2 separate regions of the Homo sapiens genome follow, and region 2 is linked to region 1. Evidence: fine-mapped expression QTL. A gene starts in region 1. The other region holds a variant in brackets. All regions are shown on one strand. Distances are from middle to middle.

Region 1 (9,162 bases):
AGTGCTGCCGTAGAATTAAACTTGAATACAGGTATCAGTTTACAATCATCCCCCAAACAATCAAAGTAAACAAGTGTCCTGTTCTTTTCAAACGCTGCTATTAAATACTCTGTAGATAATTTGAGTTTCCAGTTTTCAGGGAAAAACAAAGTCAAATTTTTGGCAATAAATTAGGCACCAAAATTGGAATGTGCATTAATGCAAGCTGCCTTACCTGAACAGCTCATTTACTACTTTCACAAATGTTAATTGACTTCTGTCTAAATTACTGACTAGTGACTAAGGGCAGAGTGACTAGTGACCAGGTACTAGTGACCAGGTTGTTCTAAAGGCTTTTAGGGGTCTTAATTCTTCTTCACTAAAAAGCATAATATCTACATTTCTAGGCACCATCGATAGAAACATTTATAAGCTGAAGAGAGCCCGGTGAATATAGTCTAAACTGAAAGGAAAATGATTACTTTGGGAGTAGCCACCTTATATTGTATTTCAGTTTCAGGCAAAATTTTGCAGTTTATTTTAGTAATTGTAAATAATGAAAATCCTACCAACATTATGTCTAGAAAATAAATAACTTTTAATTGGGGGTATCGAAACCAAATGAATAATACACTTTTTATAATTTCAATAAACACATTTATTCAAGGTTTATTTTTTATGTAGATCTTTCTTTTTAAAAACAAATCCCCAACAAAGATATTACTTTCAAATTATAGCAGGGCTTACTGAAGTTTTTTTCATAAAATTAATTGAATATTTCATAAATGTGTTATATTTAACAAACTTTTTTCTATTAAGTTGCATATTAAAAGCTTATGAAAAAATTTTCAATATCCAATCCTACTTTAGTCTAAGTTTACTTTGAAATATGCATAACATTTTTTCTGTTCCCAGCTGAAATCAATTTGTAATTATTAAGAGTCGCAGAAGAGGCCAGGTGCAGTGGCTCACGCCTGTAATCCCAAAACTTTGGGAGGCCGAGGCGGGCAGATCATGAGGTCAGGAGATCAAGACCATCCTGGCTAACACAGTGAAACCCCCGTCTCTATTAAAAATACAAAAAAATTATCCAGGCGTGGTGGCAGGCGCCTGTAGTCTCAGCTACTCGGGAGGCTGAGACAGGAGAATGGTGTGAACTCAGGAGGCAGACGGAGCTTGCAGTGAGCCGAGGTCATGCCACTGCACTCCAGCCTGGGCAACAGAGCAAGACTCCATCTCAAAAAAAAAAAAAAAAAAAAAAAAAAGAGTAGCAGAAGAGATAATTCGTCTACTCCTAAAATCAATGTTGTGCCTAACCCAGTGGCTTGTGTTTTGACTGGTTTTCAAACCACTAGAGCTGAGTGTATTTCAAAATAGAAATTTTGGAAGGTAACACTTAGAAATGTTTAAGCATTTTTATTAAAAATATTCTTGATATTTAAACTACTTATTTTCTTTGTAAATTAATTTACCCATTTCAGAACACCTTTTGCCATCAATGCACAAAGGTCACATTTTCTAGATTCTACGTTAACAACAAGAGACATTAGAGGTTGACAAAAGTGTGTATTGGGTAAGTCCCCTGCATAACAGATCAAAACCTGTGATGGTGCACCACTTGATTACGAGGAACCCTGCATTCACAGCTGTCTACGATCTGCTTCCAAACTAACTCTCCAACTTGCCCATGACTATATCCTTTTATGATGCTTCTATTATTCAGGAGGTGAACTACTATAGATGAAGGCATAAGTAACATAAATTAAATTGTCATAATACAGTGATTTAAACAGCTATTAATCTCCTCTCTTCACTTTATTCATGCAATGCATTGTGAAAGTTGTCAGAATCAGCATGGAGCCACTTGTGTTAAAAACTCAGACAAACACAGCTAGGGAAGGCCATGAAGGGAGTATATGTCACAAATGCCTGATAACAAGAACTATCACAAAAGACTATACAGAATCACAAACTTGCATAAAGGCCATTGCCACTCTACACACACACACACAAATACTTCTGCAAGGATATCTGCCCAGGAACTGCCTGTCCAACCTCAGACTGGTGCCACCCTTGTCACTGATTCTGTAGCCAAGGATAACTATCTGAAGACAATGACATAATCCTCCTCATTTTTCCTTTAAAAACGTTTGTGTCCTTTTATCTCCCTGAATATACATATAGTTTACTACCGCATGCATCTTCCCATTGTTAATGCCTATTCTCAAATAAACATTTTATTTTAGAGAGTCCCCCTCTCTGCTTGCTATCTAGGTTGATAGCACACACCTGTTTACATGCTCTCATTTGTTGCCTGTGTGTATGTGTGGCTTATTCCCAGCCAAGAGATCTTGATTATGAAAGGACTTGTAGCACTGGCACCTTCTCTTTAACTGGGTTCTTCCTTACGAAAGTCTTATCTTCCCAGGTCTTCTTCAATTAGCTGACCTCATCTAGGTGGTCATCATCCTCTTTCCTCTTCCCAAATAATTTATAAGCTCATAATGCTTGTTTCCATCTTTCTACATTTATTTATTTATTTAAATTGAGACAGAGTCTTGCTCTGTCACCCAGGCTGGAGTGCAATGGCGTAATCTCAGCTCATTGCAACCTCCGCCTCCCGGGTTCAAGCGATTCTCCTGCCTCAGCCTCCCAAGTAGCTGGGATTACAGGTGTCCACCAACATGCCCAGCTAATTTTTTATTTTTTAGTAGAGATGGGGTTTTGCCATGTTGGCCAGGCTGGTCTTGAACTCCTGACCTCAGGTGATCTGCCTGCCTCGGCCTCCCAAAGTGCTGGGATTACAGGCGTGAGTCACTGCACCCAGCTTTTTATTTTATTTTTAAGAGGTGAGGTCTGGCTTCGTTGCCCAGGCTGGTCTAGAACTCCTGGCCTCAAGCAATCCTCCTGCCTCGGCCTCCCAAAATGCTGGAATTATAGACGTGAGGTACCTCTCCAGGGATATCTTTAAAACAAACAAACAAACAAACAAACAAACATTGATTTAGAATAAAACCCAAGACTAACATCTTGGGCCTCTGGTAAATGCGTCTGCAAGAACTATTGATTCTCAGTAAATCTTCACTAAGACCCTGATTAAACTTCAAGATTCTCCTGGGTCCTTCAGCCATATTTTGGCAAGTATACAACATCCACCCCTAGAGACAACTATTCCTACAATGTCTATTAGTCTATACTCTTGTTTCCTTCCTTCCATACCTATTTCCACTTCTTTCCAAGATTGGATATTCACTTATTTGAGTAGATGCTATCCTATTACTTCTCCCTTCCAAATATCTTCTGAATTCCAAGCCCTTCTCTCCCACAGCCTCCTCTGGTTCAGGTCTTTAACATGTCCTCCAAAACTGGAGCTCCAACCCTGTTTTGTGCCATGAACCTTTGGCAGCCTGGTGAAGCCCATGCATCAAATAAAAACATGGGATTACAAAGAAGACAGATTATATGGAAATATAGTTATTAAAATATTTTTTAAATTATGATAAAATAATTTGTACTTTATTAACACGTTAAATAACAAAATCTAGCTGTGGTTCTAATAACTACCTTAATTGTGAGGTAATGATGAGTATAAATAATATATTTACAATCTCTTTAATGTAATATGAAAAGAGTTACTAACAAAGTCACAGGCCTGTGAGTACTACTGTGGTTTGTTACCAATTGAATACATTTCAATTGGTGGTTAGTGAAAATAAATATGTAATTAAAAAAATCCACAGATTCTCCTCCCTGAATCCTCTGCCCTAGATCATGGACACTTAACTGGCCTCTCTGCCTCTGTTCTAACCAGAACAACTACTCAAGAGGCCAACCTCAGAGCTCTCCAAAAATGCATCTCTTATCAAGTCTCTTCCCTGTATAATGACTTTTTATGGGTCCCTATCATTCACAGTAGCATTCTCTTCCAGATTGTAGAAATGGAGCTCATTTGAAATGCAAATTTCCTGGACCTCCTTTGATTTTGCTGGTCTGGGTTGAGCCTGGGACTCCGCATTTTTAAAAGCATTGTGAGACAGTCTTGCACTGGTGGTCTATACACCAGATTTTGCAAAACAAAATAGAGTCTGAACTCACATAAGTATGGCCTTCAGTACTTTCACAGTGTGCCTCACTGCGTCAACCTTTCCAGTTCTATTCCAGCCTCACACGGTTTCCATTCATTCCCAAACAGTCGAGGACTTTCCCACCTCCCTCTCTGGAGAATCCCCTTCCCTCCCACCCCTCCTGCTGCTCCTGGTCCACACCATGCAGGCATCTCTCTGCTTGCTTCAATCTTTCTCATCATTCAAGGCAATTATGAACTTTTCCCCCAAAGCCGAAAGCCTCCCTGACTTCCTCACTCAGGCTGAAACAATCTTGTTCTCCCTGACACTTTCCAGTCATACTATGTGTAATTACTTATGTCAGGCCTCTGCAAAGGCAGAGGGCTTCAAACTCTGAGCTTCCTAAAAGATTGCTGTGAATTCATTTAGCATTCACCATACACAAGAAGAAGGAGAAAGTATTGCGCAGCAATTAGGTACTGGGTAAACTAGTCACTAGGGGAATAAGACAATGTCCTTACTTTCAAAGAGTTTGTGTTCCCTGTTCATCTTCCTCACTGTTTATCTACTCTAGCCCTTTCTAAACAGTCCTGAAGTAATCTATTTCAGCCCACATTAATCTTTTATTGTTTGACCCCCGCCCCTAGACGGATAATCAGAATCATGCTGTTTTGGCATTCATTCATTCATTCATTCATTCATTCATTCATTAACTGACTCATTCATGGTTTATTGAGTTCCTACTATGTACTAGGCAATATGATAGTCACTGGGTATATATAACATGGGAACAAGACAGTACATGCCCTTAAAGTTCTTAGAGTGTCGTTAACTGCTCTCTCGTTGCTATTTTTGTTTCCCTCACGAGGCTGGAAGCTCTTTGAAAGCAGGGAAAGACTTGTGTTTTTTGTAGTCTTCACTGCCACTAGCCTAGCACATTGCTGACACAGCGAGTGTTCAAATACCCTTGAAAGAGTGAGTAAAATACTTGTTTTCCAAGCCGCCTTTCCCATTCAGAGCTTCTCTTACCTGATACTGCTGATCTGAAAGAAAAGGAGCCTCTTTGCAGTGCCCTCAGGAAAAGCTCCTTCGAGAGCTGGAGGTGGGAGTTTGACTCTCCTCTCTCAGAAAAAGAAATCGCAAGGGCACAAACCGCAGCAACTCTGCCGACTGTTGCCAGGACGCATCTGTCGCTAAGAGAAAAGAGGCGAGTCCTCTGCGAGACTGACAGAGCATCTCTACCAATACAGTGTCCGCTCCCTAACAGTATCTTTCAAAGCAGACTTGTGATTGGTTGCCACTATGTGACGTCACTCAACGCGAACCGGGTGAGGCCAGCAGCTTTCCACTACCAAGGAAAGAGTTTTGTGTCTTAAGTATATTAATGACAGTGGCCCGGCCTGACCCCAGGTCTAACAGGCTCGGTCCATGCCTCACACCCACCGCAATCTCAGCCAGAGAAGAATCTTTCTGGGGTGTGGACCCTAGGAACCAGGAGAGAAAATGTTAAGGAGGCTGCCCGCTCAGAATCCTTTCGGGCAGCTTTCCTGCCCACCCCCTGCAGCGAGCTGGGCCCTCCTAGGGAGTGGAGAGGAAGCTGCGCCCCACTGGTTGTCGTGGGCGCCCCAGAACCCTAATGGGTTACATTTCCTTCTTGCCAGAATAACTTTTGTTTAGAATTTGACTCAAGCTGTAAATATGAGTCTCCGGGGAAGAAACTTGAATCCGTGAGTAACCCAAGGTTCATTTTATCTGTGATTAGGAGTCCGGTGGGATTCATACAGTGACGCTCAACTCTCTGAACACTGTTCTCCTCCTTTCCCTTAAAAAATAATTATAACTGTCTAATTTGTAAAGTGGCAGAATTTAATAAAGTAATGTAATTGACTGCTGTAATTGGTGTAAATAAATTTTCACACCTAATTTAAATAAAATCTTTAATTGAGAAAAGGCTGATCATTTATAACATATGAGAGTTCAGGGGGCTGCTGCGGTGGCTCATGCCTGTAATCCCAGCACTTTGGGAGGCTGAGGAAGGCAGATCACGAGGTCAGGAGATCGAGACTATCCTGGCTAACACGGTGAAACCCCGTCTCTACTAAAAATACAAAAAAATTAGCCAGGCGTGGTGGCGTGCACCTGTAAGTCCCAGCGACTCAGAAGGCTGAGGCAGGAGAATCGCTTGAACCTGGGAGCCAAGATCGCACCACTGCACTCCAGCCTGGGCGACAGAGCGAGGGTCCGTCTTAAAAAATAATAATAATAATAACTTCCTAATTTGTAAACTGGCAGAATTTAATAAAGCAATGTAATTGACTTCTGTAATTGGTCTAAATTAATTTTTACACCCAATTTAAATAAAATCTTTAATTGAGAAGAGGCTAATCATTTATAACATATGAGACTTTAAGGATCCTGAATGAAGATTTTTACGTTATGTGCAGAAAGATTATATAGATTCTTTCAAATTTCTGAAGAATTTGTGTTCACAAAATTCAAATGAATTTTACAATACAAATTATGAAGGAAAAAAACTAAAAAAGAGGTATTATCTAAACATTCTGACAACTTTTTTCCAGCTTGTCCACTCCCAGGAAGTGGAAGATTCGTTTTCCCCTGGGCTCAGTCTTGAGTCTTCTTTTGTCACTCTTCGCACTCTCCTGGTGGCGTCGGCATCATATATTCCCCTTAGCTTCAGCCATCACCACTAAACACACTGGACTTCCATTTCTACATTCTCAGCCTAACATATCTCTTAAATTCCATACCTGAATTTCCTCTAGCTACTGGACATTTCCAACTACCTGTGTAGTTCAGTTCATGTTGTTTAATAGATGCTAAATAAAGATTAAATGTAGTGAATGAATGAATGACCATAGCACCACAACTTAGCAGAGCCAAAGTCAACTCATTATCTTTCAGAAACTTTTTTTCCTTCTTTATTTTCTACCCTAGGTAATAGTATCATTGTCCATCAGTTGCAAAACGAAATCTGAAAGTCATCCTTGACTCCTCTTCTACTGCCCACAGTCAACATATCATTTAAGTTCTGTCATTTTTCTTTCTTAATTGTCTCTCAAATAATCCATTTTCTCTTAGCCATCCTCTGCCTCTGCCTTATTTCAGATATGCCTTATCTCTCACCTAGACGGTAGCAATAGTCTTTTGACTTGTTCTATCTCTTTCCCTCTAATTTATTTGCCAAGTTGCCACATAATTTTCCATAGTTTGAATCCTGACGTCACCCTGCTTAAATATGCTCAATCTGGCATATGAAACCCTGTATAAACAGGGTTCTGAAAGACACTGGAAATAAATCTGGAAGGTAATTAGTTATTTTTCTAACCTCATTTCCTGCCTCTGTCCCCAGCCCAACCCACATTTTAGTCCAGTGCTTCTTAACTGAAGACCCTTAACAGCCAAGGAGCAGGAAATCACAGGGGCCAGGAGTGAGTAGTAGGTTGATGGAAAGAAGGTTTATAACATGAAATAGACTTCTGCAACTGAGACATATTTGTTTCATATAAAGAATTTATGAAGTTTTTGCATTTGGCTTTGCAATGGATTCGTGTTTGTTTCAATTTTTAAAAAAATGTCTAAAGCCACTATTAACTAAAATTGACAGAAAACTGAATAAACACAAAGAAACCTTAGGCAACTGTGACATGCTCATCCTGTGGTTTTGCACAGCCCCTGACATACTGCTGTGCAGGTCCAGGAGTGTGTGGGTCTCAGGTTGAGAGCCAGAGCTCTGGTTACACAGCTCCTGACTGGTCCCCTGTGCTGTGCTGGGTTACAACTGTGTGTCTGCTCATCCAGGTGCCACCACTTCTACCTCTGCCTCCATCTGTAATGCCTTTCTTCATCCTCATTACTTGGTAAATGACTATTTATTTTTCAAGACCCAACTCAAATGTCACCTTCTCTGTCCAGCCATACAGGCACTCGGTAGAATTAGACACTCTTTCCTCTATTTTTCCATTATAGCAAGTATTACATTGTGTTGCAATAGCTTGTTTAGATAGATGTCTCCCCCTCTAGACTTTAAGGCAGGGATGGTGTCTCATTACTTTATATTTCCTTTATATCCTTTATATCACACTGTGATATAATGTCAAACATAGATTTTGGTTTGTTATTGTTGTTTAGAGTGGGGATCTCACTATGTTGCCCAGGCTGGTCTTGAACTTCTGGGCCCAAGCCTTGGTGTCCCAAAGTGCTGGGATTACAGATGTGAGCCGCCATGGCCGGCTGGACATAGGTATTTAATAAAACATATATTTAATTATGTAATTGATTTACTATTCTTGGAAGTAAATCTAAAAGAAACTCTAACAGAAGCTTCTTTGTATTTTTCCAAATAATTTGCTTTCCTTAAAAAAAATTATAATCCTTCACGGTCAGATTTAAGGAAGTAAGAATTATATAACCTTGTGATCTGGCTGAGACACCAAGGCCTTCTGTCATCTTTTCTTTAGAGACATGCCAAGAGGATGTCCATTTGATGGAATGAGTCATAAGTCACAATACCAAGAAAGTTAAAAGTTAAATTGGAAATGTTTAGAAATTTCTTCATGTTACAAATTCATGATTGATTGACCATCTGTTCTTTCATGGGAGTGGTCAGAAATGAAATATCATCATGGTAGCTAGTGAATGTGTCCATGCTTTTCCAGGGGAGGTTGAATTGAATTTCCCTGAAACTTGAAGATATGTAAAAATTAGTTTTAGTTTTATTGATTGAGTGAACATCTAAAGAGTCAAGAAGTCATAATTGAAAATATTTCTCTGATTCTTTAAGGACATCTTGATAAGTTTCAGATTGGGTTTACAAAAGGACAATCTGATAAATTGATATGAGGTAGATTTTTACTAGTTATTTTGGTGAGTGACTCATTCTTTTTATGGATTTTTTTAAAAAGTTAGCTCAGAAACTAGGCGTGGAGGACCCTATTTTATGTCTGGAAGGGAGAAATGTTCTTGTTTGAGCCCTAAACTGCTGGGATTACTACATATTTTCCAAGCACTTGGGGAAACTACCACAACCTATTGCATGAGGAAGTGAGAATCATCTGAAGAGTACTCAGCTTCAGAAAGGAGAAAAAGAGACAAAAAAGCC
Region 2 (8,951 bases), 71 kb before region 1:
CTTTTTATGTCATATTTGTTAACAAGAAAGCATTTAAAAGCAATTACACAACTTTTAAAAATCCATCGTTTCCCAATAAGCTCCCAAGGCTGGTTTTGCTGGTGTGCAGGGTTCTGCTCTGACAGTGTGTGCTGTTTCACATGAGCCCGTGCCCGCAGAGAGCTGATCAGCCATGGCAGGAGGAAATTGACCACACAGGGGTTCATCAGCCCTTCACTGAGATATTTAATTTCCGTTGTGAGGACCTTGCTCAGTTGCACAGATCTGCCCTGGCAATGGCAACTTAGCAACCCGGTGGAGCAGCGCCGACCCTGGGCAGCACTCCAAGGTAGAAGGGTGCAGGGAGATGTTAATTATTTACAGTGCTGGATTAGTGAAGCCGTGAAGAGCACCTAGGCCACCATCCAACTGGAGTTAATTGCCTTTTCATCTGAAGTGCACACACACGATGTGCTTATCTGAGGACCTGAAAATATGCTGGTTTAATTACATGTTTCTTGGCGGATAAAAAGCAATTTGTAAAGCTGAATGATCATTAAATTTAATTGAAATTAATCAAATATTAGAATGATCAATTTTCTGAGTAGCATTATCAGTTCTGCAAAAAGGAAAGCTGTTCAAATTTATTTAAATTTTATGTTAAATAGTATGTCCAACACTTGTGGTCTCATATTAAGATGATCAAAGGCTAATATTAAACCAGGCATGGACAGTCACTGCTTAAGTTGCATTTGAGTCTGGGAAACATTCCTGTTATTATTAGTGGCAACAAAAAGTTAAAATCAGAGATTACTACATAGAACAAAGAGGAAACACTACGTTTCTCTGGTGTGTGTGTGTGTGTGTGTCTGTGTGTGCACATACACCTGTGACCAAGCAAGAACAGGCAACAACATTCATTAAGCGCCAACTATATTCCAGGTGCTTTATATACATTGTCTTTGTATGGGGTAGGCTAGGTATTATTATTATCCCCATTTACAGACAAGGCATCTAAGACTTAGGGGATAGTGCAGTTTGCCCAAGGTGATGAAGATGGGATTTGGACTCAGGTCTGCCAGGACCTAAAGACCCCTGTCTTTTCACTACACTGTAGACCAGACCAAATGACTTAAGGTCAGAAGATCAGATCGACTCACAATGGGTGGTAGGGGAAAGGGTTGGAGCTGTGGGGATTGGAAGGAGGCATACCAGTTAATTCTATTTGCATTCACACCTGATATTCCTACATCTTCAGTACAGGTGGTTAGCATCCTCGCTTGAGGCTCAGCTGTGTTCTTTACTGGGATTCAGCATGCCTGGCCTTGTCTGCCAAATGGAAGTTCTGGGCCAAACAAAAGGACCTTAGCTTAAGGGGTTGAAGAGCCTCAGAGAAAACTCATCCCAGAGAAGGAAGAGACATCACTATGAGTTTGTCTGTTTCAAAGTCTTAGTGTCCAAGAGAGGTATCATGAATAATTAAACCACGCTGAGTGGTCTGAGATGAATCGTATCATCTTCTGTCCTTTCCTCTTTTCTTCCATAGGTACCAGACCTGCATGAGCTCTGAAGGCTCTGCCTTGCTTCTTGCACCTCTGCTACTGCCTTGGTGTTTGCTTCTCGCTGAACTTGAACTAACCCAGAAGCATTGTCCCAGCACCTTCCCCCACGTTACAGGCCATTAGGCAGCTCTAGCATTTTGAGAGAAGGGATCCCTGAGTGCCTGGTGGTTGTGGGCTTGAACATATGTGACTCCATCTTCATCCCAGTGGCCACTGGACACACTTGGGGGCACTCTGCAGAAGGCTAGCATACCTGAGAAGCAAGTGGGCCAAGGTCCCATGAAACCTGGGCTATGGCTGCTTATGTGTCCTCTCGGTGGCCACAGGTGATGAGACTCAGGAAAACTGAGGTTATAAACACACAATGAAAACACCACACCAGGTCTGGGAGCAGTAGCTCATGCCTGTAATCCCAGCACTTTGGGAAGCCGAGGCAGGTGGATCACTTGAGGTCAGGAGTTCAAGATCTGCCTGGCCAACATGTGAAACCCTGTCTCTGCTAAAAATACAAAAATTAGCTGGGAATAGTGGCACATGCCTGTAATACCAGCTACTCAGGAGGCTGAGGCAGGGGAATCACTTGAACCTGGGAGGTAGAGGTTGCAGTGAGCCAACAACGAGCCACTGCACTCCAGCCTGGGCAACAGAGTGAGACTCTATCTCAAAAAAAAAAAAAAAAAAGAAAAAAGAAAAAGAATAAAGACAAAAATCACACTGAACTAATAATAACTGCTATCATAACCATAAGGAGCCCCATGTTTAGTTTCTATAGCAAGAATGTTACAACCATTTTGTATTTGTAAATCAGGCAAAACATATTTACTGCTTGCCGTATGCTAGCCACTATACTAAGCTTTATATTTGCTAACCCTAAGGCAGACACTTATTCAATATCCATTACTCCAGTCCTTTATGCTAACAACACCCTGCTTTTATTTGAGACAACAATGTGCTCAGCCTCCAGTCATGGTTTATGACACTCAGTTATGACACACCTGTTCTCTGTAGTCCCAGCTTCTTTTCATTGAAGAGAGGGAGACTGGGTTATGGAACACACTTCTAGAAGACTACAGGTGAAACCCCTCACCTCTTTCAGGCCTTGTTCAAGTGTCACCTTCCCTGACCATCCTGTTTAAAATGGTAGACCCTGGCACATAGAAGGCATTCAATATATTTTTTTAAAGTCAGGTGTGGTGGTATGTGTCTGTAGTCCTAGCTACTCAGGAGCCTGAGGCAAGAGGATTGCTTAAGCCCAACAGCTTGAGGCTGCAGTGAGCTATGATTGCATCACTGCACTCCAGCCTGTGCAACTGAGTGAGGCCCTGTCTTTAAAAACAAACAAACCATTTTTTAGAGTGAACTCGTGAAAATAAAATTAGAAAAATCTCTGGAGAAAGTACTGAACAGCAAGCACAGATGCCCAGGGAGAGGAAGATGCCTGGCATGTTTGGTGAACAGGAGGCCAGCATGACTGGGATGGGTGTGATGGAGGGGAGAGGAAGGAGGGATGGGACCAGGTGACAGTGGAAGGCCTGCCTGTACAAGGGCTTGCAGGGCACAGACAGGCATTGGGAACATACTCTGAGTGATCATACTATGAGGTTGAGGAAGGATTCTGGGCAGAAGGATGACAGCATCTGACAGCATCCATTTAAAACTACCATCTGGCTGTGGCTGAAAGTGACTGAAAATGACAACATAGAAACAGGGAGAACAGGAGGCTGCTGCAAAATCCAAGCTGATGATGATGCAGCTTGGACCATGGTGGTAGCAGTGAGGGAGAAGAGAAGCGATCAGGTTTCACATGCATACTGAACGTGTAGTCAACAGGACTTGCTGACAGATTGGATGTGGATTGTGAAAGAAAGGAGATGAAGGATGACCTTAAGGCTTTTGCCCCAAGCAGCATCATGGCTGGGAGGACTGCTGGAGGAATGGTTTTTGAAGGGAAACATCAAGCACTCAATTTTGGACATGTTTAAGTTTGAGATGCCTATTAAACATCCAAGTGGAGATACAAAAGGTCAAATAGATACACATCTCTTGATTTTAGAGAGAAGGCCAGGTCAGGGACAGAGGTAGTATCTAAAGCCTTGAGAGTGGATGCATGCACCTAGAAAGTGAGTGCAGAAAAAAGAAAGAATAAAAGAAGTTCAAGTGTAAGGATGAGCCCTGGGATATTTCAATCATGATGACAATAATATGTGCCAGGCACAGGCCCCTTATCTGCAGGGGCTCATTTGCCCCTTACATAAATGCTGCAAGTTAAGTTCTCTCAACCTGACTTGATGGAAGGGGAATCTGTTTCACAGAGCTGGGTCATCTGTTCAAGGGCACACAGGTGGTTAAGAGCTAAAATCTATCCGACAAAGTTTTCTTTCCTCTAGCAATCTAACTTATAAACCTTGGTATTATCCTTTGTCTTCCCTTCCCCATCCAACCAGCCTTTGATTTCTATCTTCACATTAAGCTTTAGTACAGGGCATCCTAATCCTTTGCCCTGAACAATTCCTCCTGCCTCCTAATAGGATTTCTTGCCATGAGACTCTCCCCTGCTCTAGTTCATTCCTTGTTTCCTAAAAATAAAGCTGATTGGGTCAACTTCCTGTTTAGACCTTCCATTCATTCCCCATAAATTCTAATCCAGCTCCTTAGCTTGGTAAACAGGAGCCTTCACAATCTGGCTCCAAGCTCTTTTGTG[T/G]CTCAGTTTCACATACTGTTGTTGCTTTTTGGTGCCTATGCTAGGCTTAAACAGCATGGGAACAAAAAGGCAACTGCAGTACATGATGTCAGGCACCTGATGGTGTGAGCTGTGTCTTGTTCCACATCTCAGGGGAAAGCTTTCTGCTTGTCACCATGAAGTACCATGTTTGGTGTAGTATTGTTTTACACGCCCTTCATCACATTACAGGAATTCTTTCTGTAGATGCCAAGAATGTATCATTATTATCATGAATTGATGTCAACTTTTATGAAATGTTTTTCTGCATCGACTTGGCATCATAATTTCTCTCTTTTGATTAATCACTGATTTATTTTCTACTCTTAAATTAACCTTATCTTCCTTGGATAAACCCAACTTTGTCTTCATGTGTTAACCTCTTTAAAATATATATATATATATATTTCTGGATTTGATTTGCTAATATTTTGTTTAGCACATGGCCCTACAGTTTGTACAGTGGCCAAGGGGAAGCACTTTTTTTGGAAAGGTGGCCAAAAGCAAGCTGATAAGTAGGAGCAGTTTGATTTCCCCTTCTGCCTGGAATGAGGGCCTCTGTGTGGACAGCAAGGATTGGGATGGAAGGGACATCCAAAGTTCTCTATTATTATAGGAAAATACAAATTTTGTTATTGAAAACATTCATTAAAAAAGAACACTTTCATATTCAGTACAAAATTTGGTACATACATGGTACAAAAACTGAAATAGATCTCATTGCTAAAATTCAAAAGTTTTAATAGCAGGGAAATAAAAGTCTATAAATGAGCCTATATATATATATGTTCAGCATGCCAGTTCACCTGACATAAAAATAAATAGAGGGAAGAAGTCCCCAAAACACCCCTTCAGGAAGCTTTTTTACATCACCTCCATGTATGACCCCTTCTCTGTGACTTTGATTAGGCCAAGGTTGATAAGAACAGTCTTTTCCAGTTCCAGATAACTCTCATAGTCCATTTTTAATTCAGCCTGCATTTGTTCTTTTGACTTCTGATATGTTTTCTGGGGGGGGAAGAAAAACAAGACATCCCTATAAAACACTGATATCTAAAAATACCAAAGGATGAGAAGGGGCTGTTTGTGAATAGTTGACCTGGCTGCTGTTTTCTGGAAAGGGCTGGATGGAGGGCAGGAAGGCAGGAGGGCAGGTGGGCAGGAGGCAGTCAGATGTGCTGGGAAAGGAGGGAGTGGGGGGAAACATGGTCCCCAACCACTGTCTCTCAAAAAAAAGTCCCTTTTTCCGGCCTTCTTCCCTATAACTCTTGTTTCCCTTATGTAGACTGGAGGGTGACTAATAGCCTAGAGGTTGCAGAATTCTTTTGAAATCCCCCTCTTCTGAGTCCATATGGATGGCATAGCTTGTGGATCACACGGCAATGACTACTGTCCCAGGCTGAGTCTCCAGCTGAAATTCTGGTTAGGAAAATTCCCATTTCATATGCAACTAGAGCAGTGATTATTATTGTCCATTGAGGAGTGAGCTGTTTCCAGATTTTATGTTTGCAAAGAGACAGGTGCATGATTTTCCTGAAATCTGTGTTGAACTGTACAGCCTCAACCTGGCACCTGGTGAGCACTCACACAGGCCAGCCTTGCTGGACGAACATGTGAACACTTTCTATGTGCCAGTTATTGGCTAAGTGCTGTAAATATTTTAACTCATTTAAGCTCCATTGCAATCTTCTGAGGTTGTTACTGTTGCCATTTCCCCCTTTATCAGCCGTTGCTTAGAAGGAGACATTTCTGACTAACATTAGTTGTTTTTCCTTAGTGACTTTTTTTATGTTCTCAATGTAACAGAGGAACCCTTTCAAATTCATTCACATACCCACAATCTATTCATAGTTGCAGAGAAAATTTGAGAAGTGGTGGCTTTACTTAAAAGAGGGCACCATATCAAATGGAAATAAAGTTACAAGAAGTTGGGAACGTTTTGGAAATTGAAAAGTATAATACAATTTAAGATATTATTATTATAATATTCAGGTGTTTAAAAAGTATTTCACATGCAAATTATTTTTGGATTATCCACAATTCTACTCGCTCCCACTGATGTAGATAATTAGGAGCTGTTGCTATGGTATTTAAACACTCATAATAATCGTGGATAATTGCTGGGGAAGGGGAAGGGTGGCAGATTCTCTCCCACAATAGAATCTCAACAAATCAACATTTGTTAAGTGCAAAAGAACAAAACTAAGATCAATTTGTTTGTAGCAGTGGAATGCAATGAAAGTTTAATTAATTGGCATTCTTTTACACTTTGTCACCAAACATGTTTTGAAATGAGATCCTCTGCTTTTATTGCACTAATTAGTATTTATCAATGAGTGATAATGTTAATTTATTTGCTAATGCAGCACATTACAATATTTCCACATGCTAATGCTTTATTTTTTTTTTTTTTTTTTTGAGATGGAGTTTCGCTCTTGTTGCCCAGGATGGAGTGCAATGGCACAATCTCGGCTCACCATAACCTCCGCCTCCCAGGTTCAAGTGATTCTCCTGCCTCAGCCTCCCGAGTAGCTGGGATTACAGGTATGTGCCACCATGCCCGGCTTATTTTGTATTTTTAGTAGAGACAGGGTTTCTCCATGTGGGTCAAGCTGGTCTCGAACTCCTGACCTCGTGATCTGCCTGCCTCAGCCTCTCAAAGTGCTGGGATTACAGGTGTGAGCCACGGCGCCCAGTGCCACATGCTAATGCTTTTGAGACTGAAGGCCTCATGTGAGTAACTGTGTTTGAGGATGTATGTATTTGGCTATACGGAACCTACAGATGAGATCAATGATGAAATGCTGGTAACAAAAGAGCAAAGGAGAGAGGGAGCAAGAGGGAAACAGAAATTGAGACTGAGGTGATCTCAAGTGAGAAAGAGAGAAAAGCCTAATTCACAAAGTATTTAGAAGCCCAAAATTCCAGTGGGCAAGGGAAGACCAGCAGAGTCACAGAATTCGTATCAAACAGGGAGAAGCTGAGAAAGGGAGCATGGGGTGCTTTAGAGCTTAGGTTCTTTTTTGGCAGAGTTTAAGATGGATGTGCCCTGTACCAAATTCTCCTCTATTTCAAGTTTCATATCTTCAGCATATCATATACAGTAAAATTCACCTCTTTCTCTCTACCCCCTCATATCTATTTATCTATCTATCTATCTATCTATCTATCTATCTATCTATCTATCTATCTATCATCTATCTAATCTATCATCTATCATTATAATTATAATAGCACTATTTACTGAAAGTCTATTTGTCACTTTCTTTAACTGACAGCCTTACAGTAATCCTAGTTATTAGTATTCCCATTTTCAAGATAAGAGACCTGAAGCTCAGCAAAGGTGACAGCCTTGCTCCAAATCTCACAGCTAGTCAGTGGCAGAGTTGGGATTTGAGCCCACGTGTCTTGATTCCATATTCAACTCTTTTTGCACCACCTTCTTTAATGCATTATTCACCAGATATTAAAATTCTATAATGAAAGCATTCAAATTTTGAATTAAGGTATCTGTACTAAAGGACTTTGAAATTATAGAAAATTTCAGAAACTTAAATTGGACAGAATCTCACTACGTGTCTAACTGGCAGTGAGCTAGGAAATCAAAGGAATGCCCTCTTGACTCTCATGAGAACAAGAGAAGAATGTGAAAAAGTATAACTTTTCTATGGAAACTGTGGATTAAGCCAAACAAATATATTTCCACTGGTGTTCGAGGAAAACATCTTTCATTTCTGAAATTTAACTTACAACTTTTTTCTTTGCCATTTCTAGTTCCATTTCTTTCTTTTCTTGCTCACGAATTTTTTTGCGCTGTTCTACGTATTCCAGATGCTTGACTTCTCTTTCAAAATAGTGGTTGACACTTGCCATCTGTTAGAAACAGAAGTCCATGAGAGGGTGACAGGCAGGAAGCCCCCATGACCTTTACAAGGCTCTGTTAGAATTTCTGCTGCTTGTAATTAGGTAGACGACCTACCTAATCTACCTCCCTAATCTACTTGATCATTATCTAATGATCATCTACCTAATCATTATGTAGATTATCTATTTTGTGATACTTTAAATCTTTTAGGTGAATATAATTTGGAAATTGTATTCACAGGCCCACTACCAGAGGAGCTGGTACAATTCAGGGGCTACTGTGCTAACATTTAGGGCTCTGTGACTTGGAGGTTTCCAAAGTAGGGTTGGAAGGAGAGAGCTGCAAAAATGTGCAATTTTGTAGTAGAAATATTCAGGGGTTGCTTTTTCCCCATTTCTTCCTTCTTCCTTCTAAATCTGGGGGAAGTTTCATATCATCAATCAAACTTAGAAAACCCAGATGAGAGTATCAATGTAGATCCTAGAGGGACTGGAAGCAGAGCTGAATTCCTGGTCCCTGGAGGGCTTCGAGTGTAGGCATAGAATAGAAGCAGGAAAGTCAGCAGAGACCTTGGGGAAGGCAACCAGGGCAGAGACAGCCTTTTGCCTGCCAGTAACTAGGCTGATGTTTGGACTTGCAGCAGACTGCAATCTATATGTTTAATGTTCATTGTATATACATTTATATATTTCTATTCATTGATCTTTTTAAAGCCTCATTATTAACATTGTTTGAAACACTTGGGTGGTGGGTACAGTGTGGGGGGTGCAGAATACCGCCAGTTCAGCTGTGCTGCCTGCTATACTCCAAGTTGGGTTGGGAGCCG

Evidence for each region. PIP is the estimated chance that this variant, and not a neighbour inherited with it, causes the effect.
Region 2: its variant is fine-mapped to the expression of DNAI3 in nasal epithelium (TOPMed, PIP 0.94).

Annotation. Positions count from the first base shown.
Region 1 is chr1:85,058,397-85,067,558 of GRCh38, reverse strand. DNAI3 (dynein axonemal intermediate chain 3) reads right to left here and starts at 5,232. Exons shown (of 23, transcript NM_145172.5): 1 at 5,073-5,232. RefSeq lists an enhancer at 5,097-5,597.
Region 2 is chr1:85,129,172-85,138,122 of GRCh38, reverse strand. DNAI3 (dynein axonemal intermediate chain 3) reads right to left here. Exons shown (of 23, transcript NM_145172.5): 22 at 8,011-8,133; 23 at 4,985-5,268. The coding sequence ends at 5,125. It overlaps MIR4423 (microRNA 4423), which reads right to left and starts at 4,329; the gene lies at 4,250-4,329. The variant T/G (reference allele first, on the strand shown) is at 4,243.